Homo sapiens: one gene and its partners. The protein of the gene in region 2 purifies or fractionates together with the protein of the main gene of each other region. This does not show direct contact. Each region holds a gene or a part of one and is shown on either strand. Other genes may lie near its edges. The genes, in order: TMED2, LMAN2 and ATF6.

Evidence for each region.
Region 1: the proteins of LMAN2 (region 2) and TMED2 purify together in Homo sapiens (affinity purification with mass spectrometry; 2 studies listed by BioGRID and IntAct, with this or other methods). This does not show direct contact.
Region 3: the proteins of LMAN2 (region 2) and ATF6 purify together in Homo sapiens (affinity purification with mass spectrometry; one large-scale study listed by BioGRID and IntAct). This does not show direct contact.

Annotation. Positions count from the first base shown.
Region 1 is NC_000012.12:123,594,470-123,596,894, reverse strand, and holds part of TMED2 (transmembrane emp24 domain-containing protein 2 isoform 1 precursor), read right to left. Parts: intron 291-2,425; coding exon 166-290; 3' UTR 1-165. UniProt on the Homo sapiens protein: Involved in vesicular protein trafficking. Mainly functions in the early secretory pathway but also in post-Golgi membranes.
Region 2 is NC_000005.10:177,345,036-177,348,695, reverse strand, and holds part of LMAN2 (vesicular integral-membrane protein VIP36 precursor), read left to right. Parts: intron 1-3,660. UniProt on the Homo sapiens protein: Plays a role as an intracellular lectin in the early secretory pathway. Interacts with N-acetyl-D-galactosamine and high-mannose type glycans and may also bind to O-linked glycans.
Region 3 is NC_000001.11:161,849,660-161,853,319, forward strand, and holds part of ATF6 (cyclic AMP-dependent transcription factor ATF-6 alpha), read left to right. Parts: intron 1-2,005; coding exon of another isoform or gene 2,006-2,062; coding exon 2,063-2,176; intron 2,177-3,564; coding exon 3,565-3,660.

The DNA of each region.
Region 1 (2,425 bases), on a different chromosome or scaffold from region 2:
TTTTCCTAAAAAGGCGTTTTTCCCCCAATATCTATTAATCTCAAAGAAACATAAGTTGTGAATGTACAGTTCAGAAAATAAAAATGGAGAAACTAATGACATTATTATGACCAAGGTGTTTGGTAAACAGTGAATTCTGAGTTGGGATCATCAGGAAGAGGCTTTTTAAACAACTCTCCGGACTTCAAAAAATCTCTTCAGGTAGTAGATCTGTCCCAATGTCATGGCAACTAGAACAAGAGCTTCAAAGAAGGACCAAAGGACCACTCTGCTGTTTGTGTTGTCGTTGACTGTTGAGGACAAAACAAACAAACAAAATTTAACAATTCTCCCCCAAAAAGACATAGGCATCATAAATATTTTAGTCTTCACTCTGTGTGAAAGTAATATTGTGTACACCACTCATAGAATAGATGTTCCTCAACTTACGATGGGGTTACATCCCAATAAACCCAGCTTATGTTGAAAATACATAAGTCAAAAATATATTTAATACACCTAACCTAGCAAACATCATAGCTTAGCCTAGCCTACGTAAAACACGATCAGAACACTTACATTAGCCTACAGTTGAGCAAAAGCATCTAACAACACAAAGATTATTTTATAATAAAGTGTTGTGTATCTCATACACGTTAAACTGCATTTTATTATTATTTTCTATTTTATTTATCAAGTTAGTGAACACTGCACTGAAAGTAAAAAACAGAATGGTTGCATGGGTACTTGATGCTCAGTTTCTTCTGAATGCACATCACTTTTGCACCATCATAAAGCTGAAAATTTCTAAGTGAAGTCATTGTAACCTATGGGTCACCTATACTCTAAATACTTTTGTCTCCAAGCAACTCAACATACTCCAAAGCAAAGACTTTTTTGTTTGCTCTGTTGCCCAGGCTGGAATGCCATGACACAATCATAGTTCACTGCAACCTTGAACTGTACTCAAGCAATCCTGCCACCTCAGCCTCCTGAGTAGCTGGGAGTACAGGTATGCACCAGCCCATTTGACTAATTTTTTCTGTTTTTGTAGAGAAAGGGTCTTGCTATGTTGCCCAAGTTGGTCTTGAACTCCTGGCCTCAACTGATCCTCCTGCCTCAGCCTCCCAAAGTAGAAGCAAAGATTTTTAAAAGAAACCTTAAAGATTCACTGGGTACAGCCAAGTCCATTCTGCTTGTATATGGGGAGCAGAGAAGAAAATGTGACTTGCCCAAGGTCATAATTCTAGGGTTAAAACCCAATACAACCATCTTTCTCCCTCACCATTGAAACGTCCTGTATTAGTATCCAATTTGCTGAATCAGAAAACTGACTTCTAAAAAAATTAAGGAATTATTTCAAAATCACAGTTATCCAAAATGCAATTATTTACAACATCAAAATATGGCAGTCTGAGTGTCTTTTTCCCCAAATATGTTACAAATATTTGTTGAGCACCTGTGTACTTGTCAATTGTTCTCAATGGAAGAGGTTACTCAGTTATATGGATCCATACTGACAGTTACTACCAGACCATCAAATACAAGACAAACTATGCTCATCTGTCCTGCTCTCAAACTAAGGATTTGATCCTTAAAGTAAAATCCACACCTACTCTATATTTACTATACTCTATTTGTTACATTCAAGTTTCTGATCAAATTCTTTTTATTTACTTACTTTTTTTTGAGTCAGAGTCTCACTGTCACCCAGGCTGGAGGGCAGTGGCGCAATCTCAGCTCACTGCAACCTCTGCCTCCTGGGTTCAAGTGATTCTCCTGTCTCAGACTCCTGAGTAGCTGGGATTACACGTGCACACCCCCATGCCTGGCTAATTTTTGTATTTTTAGTAGAGATAGGGCTTCACCATGTTGGTCAGGCTGGTCTTGAACTCTTAACCTCAGGTGATCTGCCTGCCTCGGCCTCCCAAAGTGCTGGGATTATAGGCATGAGCCACCACGCCTGGCCAAATTCTTTTTATTTTTAAATGTATTTTATTATTATTATTATTTTATTTTTTATGTTTTGAGACAGAGTTTCACTCTTGTTGCCCAGGCTGGAGTGCAATGACGCGATCTCAGCTCACTGCAACCTCCACCTCCTGGGTTCAAGCGATTCTCCTGCCTCAGCCTCCCAAGTAGCTGAGCTTACAGACATGTACCACCATACCTGACTAATTTTGTATTTTTAGTAGAGATGCGGTTTCTCCATGTTAGTCAGGCTGGTCTCGAACTCCCGACCTCAGGTGATCCACCCACCTCGGCCTCCCAAAGTGCTGGGATTATAGGCATGAGCCATCACGCCTGGCCAATTTATTTTATTTTTTTAAAAACGGTCTCGTGTTGCCCAGGTTGGTCTCAAGCTCCTGACCTCAAACAATCCTCCTGCCTCAGGCTCAGAAGCAGCTAAGACTACAGGCACAAGCCATTGTGTCCAACTCTCCAG
Region 2 (3,660 bases):
TTTTTTTTGAGACAGAGTCATGCTCTATCACCCAGGCTGGAATGCAGTGGTGCGATCTCAGCTCACTGCAACCTCCACCTCACGAGTTCAAGCGATTCTTCTGCCTCAGCCTCCCCAGTAGCTGGGATTACAGGCGCGCACTGCCATGTCCAGCTAATTTTTTGTATTTTTAGTAGAGATGAGGTTTTGCCATGTTTGCGAGGCTGGTCTCCGACTCCTGGCCTCAAGTGATCTGCCCACCTCGGCCTCCCAAAGTGCTAGGATTACAGGTGTGAGCCACTGTGCCTGGCCAGTATGTCAGTTTTTTAATTGAACTTGTACTTTCATTTCCACACAGAATATTATCCTAATGCAATATATTTAATGCTTGAAAATGTTATTCATTAGCCTACCATATTCTTCTGCAAGTAAAATTAATATAATAATTTAAACTTTTCAATTTTGTTGAGACTGAAACTTTTAATATTTTGTTTGAGATTATTATAATTATCTGTACACACTTGATAAAAGTAAATGCATTACACAGTTTTTGAGTAATTATACAAAAGTAAACATTTTTTGAAACATGAGATCTCAGTAGGATGTCACCCCCCACCCCCATCTGGATGGATAATACTGTCAGAATAAGACAAGTTCAGTACCACTTCTACTTTTTGTTTTTATGTACATGAATTCTGAGAAACTGTGTTCTCTTAAATAGTAGTTGGAGATGGGGTTATTTTTAAAATTTTAAATTTCTATTATAGATGGGATCTTACTATGTTGCCCAGTCTTATCTTGAACTCTTGGACTCAAGCAATCTTCCCACCTCAGCCTCTGAGTATCTGGGACACAGGTGCTCACCACCACTGTGCCTGGCACAGCGGGAGTTTTGGTAGAGCAGCATCACTGAATATTTTGATCTTCTTTTGGTTTATAAACCCAACGTCATGCAGTGATCTTTTATCAAAATTTTTGATGATGTTTCGGCTGACTGTTGATTACATCTGCATTCCGTTTCGTTGCAAGCAGAGATGTGGAAACTGCTGAACTGTAAAATAGCCTCTTATTGCCAGGTGATTCTGATGTAGTTGGCCTGGTGTAGGACCAAGGCATTAAGCTTTCTGAGCTCCCCAGGTGGGTTTGCTGTGGGTTAAGAACTGTGGTCATATCGTGTTTGTCCCCAAAAGCAGCTTCTGAATCATTTCCAGCCTGTGCCTTGCCTGCTTAAGATCCTCCAGAGGCCTTCTATTGTCTGTATCATAGTATGTCTCTACTAATCTGCAGTTTTAATCTGGGGTCATGAAGACTTTCCAAGGCCTGCGTAGTCCTGGAGGAGTCTGTTTCCAGGTCCTCCACTGTCTCATGTGCTCATTCCTGAAACCAGCCTCCCCGTGAACATGCTGGGAATGGGTGTGTGGGTTTTCCTTTCCCACCTCCCTCACTCAGTTGCCCTTCTGCTCTGAGGTCAGCCTCCCAACAGCCTGGTCTTTCTTCAGGGTGTTGTCCCCAGGTGCAGAAAACTCCTGGGCACCAAAGAGACCATTTGAAATCTGGTTTCTGGGCTGACTTTTGTACATGTGAGATATTTTTTTTTAAAGTTTTCAAATATATGAGGGCTATTTTAGTTATCTTTTAAAATTGTTTATTATTGTTAGATAGCTGATGGAATTGCATCATGGTCAGATTTTTTGGACGCGTTCTGTTTGTGCTTATGAATGTGGATTCTCTACTTGTTGACTACAGTGTGCCACGTAGGTTCTTTAGGTCAAACTTGCTTTCTGAGCTTCCCAGGTGGGTCTGCTGTGCAGCCAGGGTTAAGATTGAGTTCGGATCTTCTCTAGCTTTCCTCATGTTTTTGTCTGCTTGCTTTTATAAGTTACTAAGAGAGCTTTGTTAAAAATTTCTGTGTATGGCTGGGCAAGGTGACACGTGCCTGTAAGTGTCAGCTACTGGGGAGGCTGAGGCAGGAGGATTGCTTGAGTCAAGGAGTTCAAAACCAGCCCAGGCAGCATAGTAAGACCCCATCTCAAAAAAAAAAAAAGTGTTAAAAAAATTTCTGTATATGGATTTGTCTGCATCTTTGTAGTTCTGTCAGTTTCTGTTTTATATGTTTTGAGGCCAAATTAGGTACATACAAAAACTTAGATTTATTATATCTGTAGGTAAATGGAATCTTTTATCATTAAGAAGAACCCCTTTTTACATTTTGTTATGGGTATAGCTATAGAAGCTTGCTTTTTTTAAAAAAAAAACAACAACCGGTAATCAATTTATTAAAATAGTCAACTTTAAATATCTGCAATGGTGACTTCCACCTCAACTCCTGGCTCAATACTGATGGAAGTAATCTGCTTAATCTCAGAAGGACTGTGGAGGTCAGTGAGCCACTTGTGGATTCTCATCTGGAAACGATCCCGTGTGTTAGAACCTTCACAAGGAGTTTTTCTTGTGGTGATTCTCGAAGCCTTGATAGGCGTTCCAGCTGGTCTTTTCACTTTGAGATTCTTTTCCTTTGCTCCTCTGATCAAGTCAGCACACACCTTTTCTGGGGATTCTATGTTGCAGCTCATTAAAGTGATTCAGATTCAGTGAATTGTCACCTCTGGCTCCGCAGGTTTTCTTCAGGTATCTTTAAAGCCGTGGGTGGGCCGGGTGCGGTGGCTCACGCCTGTAATCCCAGCACTTTGGGAGGCCGAGGCAGGCAGATCACCTGAGGTCGGGAGTTCGAGACCATCCTGGCCAACACGGTGAAACCCCGTCTCTATTAAAAATACAAAAATTAGCTGGGTGTGGTGGCGGGCGCTTGTAGTCCCAGTTACTCTGGAGGCTGAGGCAGGAGAATTGCTTGAACCTGGGAGGCAGAAGTAGCAGAGAGCTGAGATTATGCCACTGCACTCCAGCCTGGGCGACAGAGCGAGACTGTCTCAAAAAATAAATAAATAAATAAATAAATAAATAAATAAATAAATAAATAAATGCATGCCATGGCTGCTGCGAGCCTTCCTGACCAACTTGTTCCTCAGCCAGAGCAAACAGTGGTGAGGCAGGAGCAGGAGCGGGCAGACCACAGCTCTGCAGCGCCTGTGGCCCTGTCTTCCTGAAGGAGCAGAAGCTTGCTTTTGGTTAGTGTTTGCATGATACATTTTTCCTGTCCTTTTACTTTTTCCCATTTCTTTATGTTTTAGCGTTTTCTCTTATAAATGGTATATTACTAGGCTTCAGGGGTGTTGTTTTTATGTTGTAAATGCATATAACATAAAATTTACCACTTTAACCCTTTTTACCTTTAAATCCATTAATTTATGAAACTATTTTCTTCAGTAGGCTACACATTGACATTGAAAGAGTGGCTTTTTTTTTTTTTTTTTTTTTTTAGACAGGGTCTTAATCTGTCACCTAGGCTGGAATGCAATGGTGTAATCACGGCTCACTGCAGCCTCGGTCTCCTGGGTGTGATCCTCCCACCTCAGCCTCCTGAGTAGCTGGGACTACAGGCGCACACCACCATGCCTGGCTAATTTTTTTTTTTTTTTTTTGGTAGAAGTAGGGTTTCACCATGTTGACTAGGCTGGTCGTGAACTCTGGGCTCAAGCAGTCCACCCACCTTGCCCTCCCAGAGTGCTGGGATTACAGGCATGAGCCACTGCGCCCAGCCTGACAATGGCATTTAAAAGATGT
Region 3 (3,660 bases), on a different chromosome or scaffold from region 2:
GAACTGTAAACTTTTTTTATTTTCTTTCTGCCTAGGTGACTCATCTATAATTTCATGCACAGTTCATATCTATATGTCCTGATGACTCTCAAATTTATGTTTTCAGTCCAGACTTCTCTTCTGAGTCTCCAGAGTCACATATCCAATAGTCTCTTTGACATCTCTGTTTTAACATTTCAAACTTAACATGTGCACTGTGGAACTCAGTTCCTCTCCCTGTTTTACTTCCAACCAATTTTCTACAACTGTGTTTTTTCCTTTCCATTGCTTAAGCCAGAAATCCTGATTCCTGTCTTTCAACAAGTGTTGTTGATACTCTTCCCCAAAATTGTCTTGAATTGGTCCACTCCTCTCCGTCTCTGCTGCCACAAACCTAGTCCATGCCATCATCAGTTCTTGCCAGGATTGCCATAGCTCTTTCCTAATCAGTGTCTCAGCTTCCCCTTTTGCCTCCATTGAGTCCATTTTTGGTACCATGGCAAGGTATGAATGTAAATTGAAATATATCACTTCTTTATTTGAAACACTTTTATGACTTCTTATTACATTTAGTAATTCCTTATTATGACCTGGTCTTTTATTATGACCTTATTATGATTCCTTTCCAGCCTCATCCTGTTCCCTCTCTACCTCCCCACTTGCTTGCAACTCTTCAGCCAGTGGTCTTTTTAAAGTTCTTTGAGCCCACCTTTCCCCCACCTGCCTCTTTTATGCCTAGAATGCTCTTACCCCAGTTTCTATAGAGGCGGCGTCTTCTCATCATTTAGGCCTTGATGTAACTACCATCTCCTTCTCGGACCATTTTATCTAAAGTATATACTACCATTGCTTTTCCATTTCAACCATTTGTTTGTTTCTTTCATAGCACTTACTAGAGTTCGGATTATTTTATGCATTTATTTTCTTCTATTTGGTCCATCTTCCCCATTAAGGTCTTTGGGGACAGAAACTTTGATTCTCTCATTCCCTACTGGATTCTCAGCACCTAGCACAATACCTGGTGCACAGTTGGTATGCAGCAAGTATTTGTTGAATGAATAAATGAAAAGTGTGAGTCTCACTATGTTCAGTTTTATATGTTTACATGTTTTCTTTTGAGATATTAGCATATCTAGTTTTCTAAATCCAGATCATCCTATATAAAGAAATTCAAGAGAGATGCAAGCTTTGTTAGTGAGAGAGATTAAGATTGCAGACTGAAGAGCATAAATAACAGTAATATCCCCATCTCAAATTCTAACTTTCAACTCCAGTTTTGCTCCCTACGTCACACCTTGGATATGAATTCACATGATCTACATCAGTGCGATGGCTAGGAAAGTATATATTTTTGAAGCAAATGGAGTAACTAGTTAATGTCAGTCACTCTGTTGTTTTATTAGTGATTCACATTCTTCCATGATCCCATAGTTTATATTCGGCTTTTCAACTCTTTCACTTTTCTCCTGCCAAGCATTTTATGTCTCACCCTATCCTTAACATACACACACACACACACACACACACACACACCCCTACCTGTTTTACAGATACTATCCAGTTTTATCATAGAATTGTGTCTCACCCTATCCTTAACACACACACACACACACACACACACACACACACACACACACCCCTACCTGTTTTACAGATACTATCCAATTTTATTATCATAGAATTGTGAATGACCCCTAAACTTTAGTCTGGTCACATAATACCACTTGATTTTCGCCTCAATTACCCCGTTACTGTGTTACTACCTCTGTACCAGCAGCATTGTGCATGTCTTAAGCTCATTGAAGATATGATGAACCATGTGTTATTGTATCGCTTATTCCAAATTAATTGCTCAATAAATGGTGATTAGACAAATGTGAATTACCATCCTGTCTCTGTAGAAAATCAGAAAATGACATTTCATGTAAAATAAGGTTTTGTATTTTATACTTTATCTTGCAGTATATTCTGTTTACTATATTTTTGTTTCCATGAAAAGTTAACACTAATGATGATTTTCTTATAGCAAACTTCTTAGGAATTTAAGATACAAGGAAACAAATTTTGTGCATCCATGTTTCAGATATGATCATTCTGTTTCAAATGACAAAGCCCTGATGGTGCTAACTGAAGAACCATTGCTTTACATTCCTCCACCTCCTTGTCAGCCCCTAATTAACACAACAGAGTCTCTCAGGTGAGTGTTGTAGATTATTGCAGAAACATCTGAGTTGGTTCCCATGTTTAGTTTTGGAACCTAGACAAGTAATTGGTCAAGTTCACTAAGTGACTGAGAGAATCTCTGAATTATTTGTGGATAACTGTAGGCATATTAGTTGTCCAGTTTCTCCACCAACCTCATGGAGATGGTGATGGGTCTATTTTATGTGATAGTTGCTTACTTAAATATGTCTTCTTTAAAAACTACAGAATGAAATTAATATTAAAATTTCATGGTGTTAGGCTTACAGTTGGTAACATTCATAGCAGAAAGTACCTTTTTCTTCCAATTAGGAAGATAATAATTTGTGGGTATGTGATTCTGGAGATACTTTACCGTTAGTACACACTTCTTTATCAATTTTTCCCTTGAATTTTTTTTTCCTGTGATTTTGGACCTTACCCTTAAAACCTCAAAAACTACCTCAGATTTTTTGTGATATGTAGTAATCAACTACAGTTAAACATAGTTTAACATCTTCACAGCTGCTGTAAAAAGTAAGCAAAATAAGGGAAGTTATATATGAGCTATGCTTTTATTTCGTGTGTTGAAAAATTTGAATTTTTTTTTACCCCAGGCAATTGAGTTCATTCTTTTTCTTCTCCCAAAAGAGCATGATTTTCAAGAGGTTTTAATGCATCTATTTGTTGTTAGGGGTCCTATGACTTGTTAAGTTCTCTACAATGTGTCTCAAATGTTTGTGTTTATATAGCCCAAGAACAGAAATAGGAAATACTTTTTATTTTGTTTTGTTTTATTTTATTTTATTTTTAGACAGGGTCTTGCTCTGTTGCTCAGGCTGGTGTGCAGTGGCTGGATCATAGCTCACCGCTTCCCCAAACTCCCAGGCTCAAGTGATCCTCTTGCCTTCGCCTCCTGAGTAGCTGGGACTACAGGCACATGCCACCATGCCCAGTTAATTTTTTAAAAAAATTTTCTGTAGAGACAGGGTCTCACTGTGTTGCGCAGGCTGATCTCAAACTCCTGGGCTCAAGCAGTCTTCCCACCCCAGCCTCCCAAAGTGCTAGGATTACAGGTGTAAGCCACTGTGCCTGGCAAGGAAATACTTTTTTTGGTGGAAAAACCTTAGCATCCAGTGTTTATATTTGGGAGGTATTTAGCTGTAGTTTTCTTTGAAGTTTGAATGCATGGTTGACAGGTTTACCATGTAAAAATGCATGTCTTATTAAAAACAACGTTAAGTGTCAACTTTTTCAAATCAAAAAGCAATATTGAGTCATCAGGCACTTGGAATGCTCTTTGGAACCTACAAATGATTAGATTCATTTCCACCCACAGGGTGAAACATCCATTTCTATGTTTAATTAATTTCTATGTTTAATTAATTAAACTATATTTTATAGGTTAAATCATGAACTTCGAGGATGGGTTCATAGACATGAAGTAGAAAGGACCAAGTCAAGAAGAATGACAAATAATCAACAGAAAACCCGTATTCT